Linked DNA regions of Homo sapiens: all the other regions are reported to be linked to region 2. Evidence: microRNA targets listed by miRTarBase, many of them from high-throughput screens and not tested one by one. Region 2 holds a microRNA gene; each other region holds the end of a gene's coding sequence.

The links. Region 2 holds the annotated microRNA hsa-miR-4319 (UCCCUGAGCAAAGCCAC, at 923-939, opposite strand). A microRNA usually pairs through its seed, bases 2 to 8, with sites in the 3' UTR of a target mRNA and lowers its output. Matches are read on the target gene's strand: a 7mer-m8 pairs with bases 2 to 8, a 7mer-A1 pairs with bases 2 to 7 and ends in A, and an 8mer does both.
Region 1: miRTarBase lists ARIH2 as a target of hsa-miR-4319. Seed matches in the 3' UTR shown: 7mer-m8 at 3,178-3,184.
Region 3: miRTarBase lists HID1 as a target of hsa-miR-4319. The part of its 3' UTR that is shown has no 7-base or 8-base seed match.

The regions. Positions count from the first base shown.
Region 1 is chr3:48,982,919-48,986,170 of GRCh38, forward strand. It overlaps ARIH2 (ariadne RBR E3 ubiquitin protein ligase 2), which reads left to right. Exons shown (of 16, transcript NM_006321.4): 15 at 1-61; 16 at 281-3,252. The coding sequence ends at 352. It overlaps LOC124909376 (a long non-coding RNA gene), which reads right to left. Exons shown (of 2, transcript XR_007095903.1): 2 at 2,567-2,815. Among named protein-coding and RNA genes, the nearest start is that of P4HTM, 5.7 kb to the right of the region's middle.
Region 2 is chr18:44,969,218-44,972,469 of GRCh38, forward strand. It overlaps MIR4319 (microRNA 4319), which reads right to left and starts at 949; the gene lies at 865-949. The region is part of intron 4 of SETBP1 (SET binding protein 1); the gene reads left to right.
Region 3 is chr17:74,948,728-74,951,979 of GRCh38, reverse strand. HID1 (HID1 domain containing) reads left to right here. Exons shown (of 19, transcript NM_030630.3): 18 at 1-75; 19 at 347-1,238. The coding sequence ends at 410. It overlaps OTOP3 (otopetrin 3), which reads right to left. Exons shown (of 7, transcript NM_001272005.2): 7 at 1,988-2,734. The coding sequence ends at 2,564. Among named protein-coding and RNA genes, the nearest start is that of OTOP3, 14 kb to the right of the region's middle. RefSeq lists an enhancer at 905-1,863.

The sequences.
Region 1 (3,252 bases), not on the chromosome of region 2:
GGAGGCTGAGATCGAAAACCTCTCATGGAAAGTGGAGCGTGCAGACAGCTATGACAGAGGGGTAAGTGCCTACTGTCCTCTTGGATTCTATATTGCAGGTAGAGGACTGGCATGGTAATAGGTGACAGCGTTGTTGGCTTGTGCACTGGTAGCTGCTGCTAAGAATGGGAAGGGCAGTGTTTTTGACTCCTTGGAGGTCCTGGAGGGTGTTTGTGGCTTTGGCTACTCCTTGCTCCCAGGCCTGGGCCATGCAAGCACACACCTTGTTTCTCTGATGCAGGACTTGGAGAACCAGATGCATATAGCGGAGCAGCGGAGGAGAACCCTGCTGAAAGATTTCCATGACACCTAAGTTGGGATGTGGATGTGCCGGGGTGAGGAAGATGTGGCTGCAAGGTCTCCCGGCTGCCATACTGCATGCTGCAGGCTCTGCCTTTCATGACCCCAGGCAACAGCCAGGGCCCCACTCCTGAGAGACACTGGCAACACCTCTTAGTTGATTTCTGTTTTCTTCTCTTTTCACTTTTTGTTTCTACCAGGGTAGAGGCCATGTTGAACTGGCCTCTTTTCAGGACTTTTATTTCCCCCTGGATGGTTGTTGGGAGGGAGGGAAAGTGTTTTCTGAATGGCTATTAATAGTATTAGATCATTACAACTTATGTAACTTTCAAAGGTTGTACAATTATACAAAAAAAAAAAAAAGGCAAACTATAGGATAACACAGAGCCCTTTTTGAAAATAAATTGGCATTGGAGTGTTTTACCCTCTAGCTGTTTTACTTAGAATGTAACATATGCTGCCTACCCACCTCAAAATGTCTGTACTGCAAGAGGGCCCTGGGCCTCTGCTTTCCATATTCACGTTTGGCCAGAGTTGTAGTCCCAAAGAAGAGCATGGGTGGCAGATGGTAGGGAATTGAACTGGCCTGTGCAATGGGCATGGAGCACAAGGGGTCACAGCATGCCTCCTGCCTTACCGTGGCAGTACGGAGACAGTCCAGAACATGGTCTTCTTGCCACGGGGTGTTGTTGTCTCTGGTGGTGCTGCATGTCTGTGGCTCACCTTTATTCTTGAAACTGAGGTTTACCTGGATCTGGCTACTGAGGCTAGAGCCCACAGCAGAATGGGGTTGGGCCTGTGGCCCCCCAAACTAGGGGGTGTGGGTTCATCACAGTGTTGCCTTTTGTCTCCTAAAGATAGGGATCTACTTTTGAAGGGAATTGTTCCTCCCAAATAAATTTGCTTTACCTTGGTCCTTTCTTTTGTGCCAGTATTCAAGTGGTATAGCTCTGAGCAGGGTCACATTTGGCCAAACCTGACACTGTCTTGCTGCATTCTCCTTTGGCAAACATCAGGGTCAGAATTCAGGATAGCCCTTCCTAGGGCACTGGACTTTCTGGCATGGGGGCTGTGTTTGCACAAGTTATTTTCATGTTACCTGGAGAGTGTCCAGAGGCTGCTCTGAGGCTGAGGTGTGTTCCCCCTTGCCTGGTTCCAGCTGTCAGAGGGATACCATCCTAGGGTCTGGGAATCCAAGGCCACGAGACTCCTTGGTTTGTGGTCCGAGATCCTGTACTAAGGAGGGTCTGGCCAGAGGAACAGACCAGCTTTTGCACAATGAAGCGCAAGGGAACAAGTGGTTTGCCTGGTGTCCTACCTGTCCTGAACCTGGTCCTGTGGGCCATTGAAAAGTTAGATCTGTGATCTCTGGGGTTTTTGTGGCTTTGTTCAATGCTTCCACTCTAGGGCAGGCAGAGCAGTCTATACTCTCCCAAGCCTGCTTGACCTCCAAGTAGAGCTGATACAGAGATCTGTGAATATTGTGATAGAAATTCTTTGGTATTCATACATTTCAGCTGCAAGTCAGCAATTTCCCAGGTACCATGTAAGCTATAAAACAGTCATTCTTAAAGACAGAGGATAGCTGTGACTCATGGGATCATGAGGTCCATGGCTGGTTGCAGGTTCCCTTTTTCCTTCCTCAGGTTTTGTCTCTTCCTGTGTTGTCCCCAGCAAGGGAGAGACTGTGGGGTGGATTGGGAGAACAGATTAGGAGTATAGCAAATGAACCCAGAATGGAACAGTGGGGAGCTAACTGTGAATGAGGAGAGTACCTGCTGCAGGACCTGGAGGTCAGGTGTGAATGCTGTATTGGCACAGGGAATAAATATCCTGGCGTCTGGAGCCTTCACCTCTCCGTCAAGTCCTTCCTGTGATACTGCCATGGCACAGGATCTGAGTTGCAGCTCTGCACCCTAAATCACACCCTGGGCATTGTCTGGGCTGCAGGGCTGCCAGGTTCTGTACTTGTGTCCAGCTGTGGCCCTGGATGCTGGAGCTGGAGGGTTTTCTGTGCTCAGACTGTAGCCTGTAGCTCTTGGCCTGTGTAGAGCCCCCTCCTGTGCCCTCAGTGGCTGTCGTTTGTTAACATCATCAGGAAGATGGGAAAGGTCAGGCAGAATTTTTCTGCCCTACAAAGGGTGGAAGAGAAAGGACACAGTATTTTCATGAATTTACCATATATCTTTGTTTTTCTTCAACGAAAAAGTTAATTGAGGCAATGTCATCTGCTCAAAGTTGAGTGGTTTATTCACAATAAACTGTAAGTTTCTGATTATAAAAATGTGTCTAGAGTCTTTCTTCATGGGGTCTAGGTAGTCTTCTGAGCCCACAGGGGTCTGGCCAGTGAACACCAGAGGAGTGCCTTCCTATCAGTCAGCCCCTTCTTCCAGAGGGCTGTGGAGGCCCCAGTGGCCAAACTCGGCTCTGTTTTCCCTTTCTGGCTGTTGGGGGAGAGGGCACCTGTAAGTGATCCCTGTGGAATGAAGTAGAAAATCCTGCCAGTTTTCCGCTCTCCTCTCCCTCAGTACAGGCTGAATCATTCCCCACCACAGATAGATCCCAGGGTTGTGGTAGAGTACTGATATAAATGTCCCAACCCCCCCATTCTGAGACCTCCGGACCCCTCCAAAGCAGACATGGGAATGTAGGGCTGTGGAATATGGCAGGGTGAACTCCAGCTTCACGGGAGCCCTAAGGGTTATGAAGAGACAACTTGGGGCAGAAACAAGTGTGGAGTCTAATCTCAAGGGTGAAGGACAGGAAATGAGGTTTGGATTGATTAAGGGGGTCCACATTTGTGGTGTCAGAAGTGGCAGTAGTGTCAGTGATAAGTAGCTCAGGGGTAGAGTGGAGGCTCCATAGCTGTGGGCAACATGCACAGGGCACCTGTGGCTAGAAGAGGCCTCATAC
Region 2 (3,252 bases):
GGGGAAGAAAGCTGCAGTTTTTCTAATTTCCCTTCAGTTCAATGCTACTCTTGAATGGGGAAAATGATACAAAACGTCTGAAGAATTGAGAGTCTGACAAGAGGGGAGGATTTGTATTTCCTTGTTATTAAAAAAGAAGAAAAAGCCCTCAGTTATGTCTAATCTTTAGGAACGCAGTGCCCTGTCCAACCCACGAACTGTTGGCAGCATCATAACTCTACACAGAATGTTCTTTTAAGCTTTTCCCTCCTTCCCAAGCCTTTCCTGTGAAGTTATAAATCTCAGCATTTAGAGATATTCTTATGCAAATAAAGGAGGGACTTTAGGTTGGGACCTTTCATGTTGATTCTGCTGAGGGCATGCTAGAGAAACAGCCCCAAGAAAAGCAGGCGCACTTCCATGGCTAGGTTCTAGGTTTGACTTTATTTGTGAAACCCCATCTGTCCCTCCTACACCAAGTACCAACTCCAGGAAGCTGTGATTTAATAGCTCTGTGCCTAGAGGAAGTTTTACCCAACCCCTCACAACATCCTCCTGATTGTTTGGAAAGTGAAATGATTCTGAAGATCAAACTCTACCGCTTCTTGCACTGCCTCCTCTTCTGTGTATAGCTGACCTCCTCATTCCACCTACACAACACTCCCCTTAAACTTTGTTGCAGCAGGCAGAGCAGTGTGGCCTTAGGTGTAGGTGCACCTGGAAAAACCCCAAATAATGTCCACTTGAGGTCACATAGGCAAGCAGATGTCCTGAACCTATTGCTGCCCTTGAGTCAAAGAATCCTAATTCTCCTTATCTGGTTATTTTGGCTGCTCCGTGATAGTGACATATTTTTCAAAATACATTCATGTGCATTTTCTCCTTTGACCATCATAGCCCCATGAGCTGAGCACTCATATAACGTCCTCAGGGAGCATTCCCAGTGGCTTTGCTCAGGGACTCAAGCCAAAAAGGTGATGATGGGCTCTGACTTAGTACAGTGAGTTATCACCGAAAGGAAATGGGAAAAGAAAGAGACTGACCAAAGAGATCCAGCCAGGCAGCCTTGTGCAAGTGATTTAAACAACCTCTGCCTGTGTTTGCAAATCCAAAATAGAGATAATAGTAGTTAGTAACTCACGGGGTGTGTCTGCTTATAAAGTTGTAGCATATGTACCTATATGTAGCAGAATGCCTGACTCATAGAAAATATACCATAAATGTTAGTGGTTATTAATGATTATTATTAATGTATTGAACACCTATAGTATACCAACCTTTATTTCATATTTTGTTTACAACGATTCTAGTTGGTTTTCAATAGAATACATCACTGTTGGTATAATTACAAATGCACAGGCCTTTTTTTTTTGGAACAGAGTGTTGCTCTTGTTCCCCAGGCTGCAGTGAAATGGGGCGATCTCGGCTTACTGCAACCTCCACTTCCTGGGTTCAAACGATTCTCCTGCCTCAGCCTTCCAAGTAGCTGGGATTACAGGCACGTGCCACCACACCCAGCTAATTTTGTATTTTTAGTAGAGACAGGGTTTCACCATGTTGGTCAGGCTGGTCTCGAACTCCTGAACTCAAGTGATCCACCTGCCTCGGCCTCCCAAAGTGCTGGGATTACAGGCCTGAGCGACCGCACCCGGCTGGGCTTGTTTTCTTTTCTTTTTTTTTTTAATTATACTTTAAGTATTAGGGTACATGTGCACAACGTGCAGGTTTGTTACATATGTATACATGTGCCATGTTGGTGTGCTGCAACCCATTAACTCTTCATTTAACATTAGGTATATCTCCTAATGCTATGCCTCCCCCCTCTCCCCTTCCCCCACCCCACAACAGGCCCCAGTGTGTGATGTTCCCCTTCCAGTGTCCATGTATTCTCATTGTTCAATTCCCACCTATGAGTGAGAACATGCGGTGTTTGGTTTTTTGTCCTTGTGATAGTTTGCTCAGAATGATGGTTTCCAGCTTCATCCATGTCCCTACAAAGGACACGAACTCATCATTTTTTATGGCTGCATAGTATTCCATGGTGTATATGTGCCACATTTTCTTAATCCAGTCTATCATTGTTGGACATTTGGGTTGGTTCCAAGTCTTTGCTATTGTGACTAGTGCCACAGTAAACATATGTGTGCATGTGTCTTTATAGCAGCATGTTTTATAATCCTTTGGGTATATACCCAGAAATGGGATGGCTGGGTCAAATGGTATTTCTAGTTCTAGATCCCTGAGGAATCGCCACACCGACTTCCACAATGGTTGAACTAGTTTACACTCCCACCAACAGTGTAAAAGTGTTCCTATTTCTCCACATCCTCTCCAGCAACTGTTGTTTCCTGACTTTTTAATGATCGCCATTCTAACTGGTGTGAGATGGTATCTCACTGTGGTTTTGATTTGCATTTCTCTGATGACCAGTGATGACGAGCATTTTTTCACATGTCTTTTGGCTGCATAAATATCTTCTTTTGAGAAGTGTCTGTTCATATCCTTTGCCCACTTTTTGATGGGGTTGTTTGTTTTTTCCTTGTAAATTTGTTTGAGTTCATTGTAGATTCTGGCTATTAGCCCTTTGTCAGATGAGTAGATTGCAAAAATTTTCTCCCATTCTGTAGGTTGCCTGTTCACTCTGATGGTAGTTTCTTTTGCTGTGCAGAAGCTCTTTAGTTTAATTAGATCCCATTTGTCAATTTTGGCTTTTGTTGCCATTGCTTTTGGTGTTTTAGACATGAAGTCCTTGCCCGTGCCTATGTCCTGAATGGTATTGCCTAGGTTTTCTTCTAGGGTTTTTATGGTTTTAGGTCTAACATTTAAGTCTTTATGCATCTTGAATTAATTTTTGTATAAGGTGTAAGGAAGGGATCCAGTTTCAGCTTTCTACATATGGCTAGCCAGTTTTCCCAGCACCATTTATTAAATAGGGAATCCTTTCCCCATTTCTTATTTTTGTCAGGTTTGTCAAAGATCAGATAGTTGTAGATATGTGGCATTATTTCTGAGGGCTCTGTCCTGTTCCATTGGTCTATATCTCTGTTTTGGTACCAGTCCCATGCTGTTTTGGTTACTGTAGCCTTGCAGTATAGTTTGAAGTCAGGTAGTGTGATGCCTCCAGCTTTGTTCTTTTGGCTTAGGATTGACTTGGCGATGCGGGCTCTTTTTTGGTTGCATATGAACTTTAAAGTAGTTTTTTCCAATTCTGTCAAGAAAGTCATTGGTAGCTTGAGGAGGATGGCATTGAATCTAGAAATTACCTCGGGCAGT
Region 3 (3,252 bases), not on the chromosome of region 2:
CATCCGCAAGTACCAGGCCAACTCGGGCACTGCCATGTGGTTCCGCACCTACATGTGGGGCGTCATCTATCTGAGGTGGGCCCCGGGGAGTGGGGTGGTGTCCACCTGAGAGCCTGCCCAGCAGGGCTCAACAGGGACCTCAGCTCTGGGCCCCACCACCTATGGTGGACTTCATGTCAAGACAGTCAACTAAGGCGGCCTTGCCTGGTTGACGGTGGCACCCGCTGCCCAGGGTGGGACATCGGGATGGAAAGGGTTGGCTTGGCCATTCCTGCTGCCCAGCTCCTCCTGGTGCCTTGTCTGCAAGGTGCCCCAGCACCTGGGTAACCCCCCATTTCCTCCACAGGAATGTGGACCCCCCTGTCTGGTACGACACCGACGTGAAGCTGTTTGAGATACAGCGGGTGTGAGGATGAAGCCGACGAGGGGCTCAGTCTAGGGGAAGGCAGGGCCTTGGTCCCTGAGGCTTCCCCCATCCACCATTCTGAGCTTTAAATTACCACGATCAGGGCCTGGAACAGGCAGAGTGGCCCTGAGTGTCATGCCCTAGAGACCCCTGTGGCCAGGACAATGTGAACTGGCTCAGATCCCCCTCAACCCCTAGGCTGGACTCACAGGAGCCCCATCTCTGGGGCTATGCCCCCACCAGAGACCACTGCCCCCAACACTCGGACTCCCTCTTTAAGACCTGGCTCAGTGCTGGCCCCTCAGTGCCCACCCACTCCTGTGCTACCCAGCCCCAGAGGCAGAAGCCAATGGGTCACTGTGCCCTAAGGGGTTTGACCAGGGAACCACGGGCTGTCCCTTGAGGTGCCTGGACAGGGTAAGGGGGTGCTTCCAGCCTCCTAACCCAAAGCCAGCTGTTCCAGGCTCCAGGGGAAAAAGGTGTGGCCAGGCTGCTCCTCGAGGAGGCTGGGAGCTGGCCGACTGCAAAAGCCAGACTGGGGCACCTCCCGTATCCTTGGGGCATGGTGTGGGGTGGTGAGGGTCTCCTGCTATATTCTCCTGGATCCATGGAAATAGCCTGGCTCCCTCTTACCCAGTAATGAGGGGCAGGGAAGGGAACTGGGAGGCAGCCGTTTAGTCCTCCCTGCCCTGCCCACTGCCTGGATGGGGCGATGCCACCCCTCATCCTTCACCCAGCTCTGGCCTCTGGGTCCCACCACCCAGCCCCCCGTGTCAGAACAATCTTTGCTCTGTACAATCGGCCTCTTTACAATAAAACCTCCTGCTCCACATTCTGACTCTGTGGTTGAGGCGAGGGGCCAGGTGTGGCTCTTGTCTTCAGGGGAGCTGGGGACTCTGCACCCCAGAGGGCCCCCAGTGCATGACTGGGAACCAGCATTTGTTATTTTCTTGGGTGGGAAAGCAGGATCAGACCCTGTCACCTAGGGTTTGGGCCCCTGGGCTGTTGCTGCCCAGAGAAAGAGCCCACAGGAGAGGCCATGGGGCCTCACCAGGCAGCCACTGAGACAGCGCTGGGAGGGCTATGCTTGCTAGTGACTCACTTCGGTGGGGGTGGGTGAGGAGGAGGGCAGAGCCTCACCTGCAGGGCCAGGGCTGCCCTCTCTGGCCTCGTCCCAGGCAGAGCCCACTGTTTGCACTGGGCTCAGGGAGACGGATGGCCTGCCACACCTGCCCTTTCTCTTCCGTTCCTGCCCTACCTGATGGCTCAGGAGATGAGCCAGGCCTGGGACCGGCAGCCAGGGGCCACAGCCTGCATGGTGAGCCCGCTGCAGAATGTCACCGGGGGCTCTGTCCTAGAGAGAGGGTGTGCTGGGGAGGGGTGGGGGTGGAGAGACACGAGCCCGGACTTGTCTCTCCCACCTCTTCCCCCGGATCAGACCAAGGAAGAACTGGGTTAGACCCCTCCTGGCCCGGAAGCAGGACTGTCCCAGCCCCACAGCCCTACTCAAAAGGACCATTCCTTCCCACCATGTCCGGAGGAGCAGTTCTGTCCCTGGGAACAAATGCCATGAGCCTGAATGCAATCCATTAAACAAATAGGGTTTATGCGGCAGGAGAGAGCTGTTGAACCCTGCCTGGCAGCCAATGAATGAGCTCATTAGGAGACAGGTGTGTGGGGAGAGGAGCTGGCCTCCTAGCTCGGAGCTCTGAGCTCTGAGGATGTCCAGAGCCACACTTGGACCAGGTGCTCTTCTCGCAGCAGGGGGCAGACCTCTGAGTCCTGGCTGGAGAGGGGTGCCCCTCGCCAAGCTCCCCAGACTCGGTCATGTAGGTCTGACCCTCCCACAGAGTAGCCGTGAGGGGGCCCCTGCCAGCCTCCTGGGGTGCACCCTTGGCTTGCGGATCGTGGTGGGAAGGCAGGGGGCAGGCATGTGCCCAGGCCTGGCCGTGGGCATCAGAAGCTCAGTGTCCAGGCCCCTGCTGTTGGCCTCTGGCTCTAGGCAGTGCCCTCCCCTTCAGTGAGGCTCTGGGGAGCAGGAGGCCTTGAGAGCCTCAGGCTGGTCTCGGCACCTCAGAATGAGGCATCTGCTCAGAGACTCTGGGCTACCATCTTCCCCACCTTGGCACTTCGAGGTTCTGCCGGGGGTGGGCAGCCTCAGGCCCCCAGGTAGACCTCCACCAGGCCTCCCACAGAGTGCATGCGGTAGAAGACCCCCAGAGGCAGGCCGAAGTTGACGATGGCGAACCATATCTGGTAGCCGTAGAAATCCTTTTCTAGCCCGTTCTCAAACTCCGGGTGTATGCCAAATGCAGGCATCATCCACAGCTGGGGAAGAGGATGTGCTGAGTTAGGGAAGGGCTCTCCTGTGCCCCAAGGCACTCAGTTCAGGGGAGGCAGCCCCCAAACCTGCAGCCCCTCCAGTGCCACCCCCACCTCCCGCTCAGTCTTCTTCTAACCCTTGGGCTTTCAGCGTGAGCTCTTCTTTCCCCCAGATCTTTCTCGCCCTACTGCAGAAGGCCTTAGCTATCCCCAGCCATCTCTGTGAGCTTGCCTGTGGCCAGCCTGAACTTCAGATGGGTCAGGAGACCCCAGGCTGCCGCCACGTGTGGGGAGAAGCAGGAATTCCCAGCGCGCCACCTGCTCTGTCAAGCTGGGCACCCCCACCCTGTACCCTGAGCTCGGGCTTCACTCCTCGGCTAGCTACTTTTTATTTTTATTATTTATTTATTTTTTTGAGACAGGTCTCACTCTGTCACTCAGGCTGGAGTGCAGTGGCAGGATCACAGCTCACTGCAGCCTCAACCTCCCGGGCTCAAGTGATCCTCCCACCTCAGCCTCCCAAG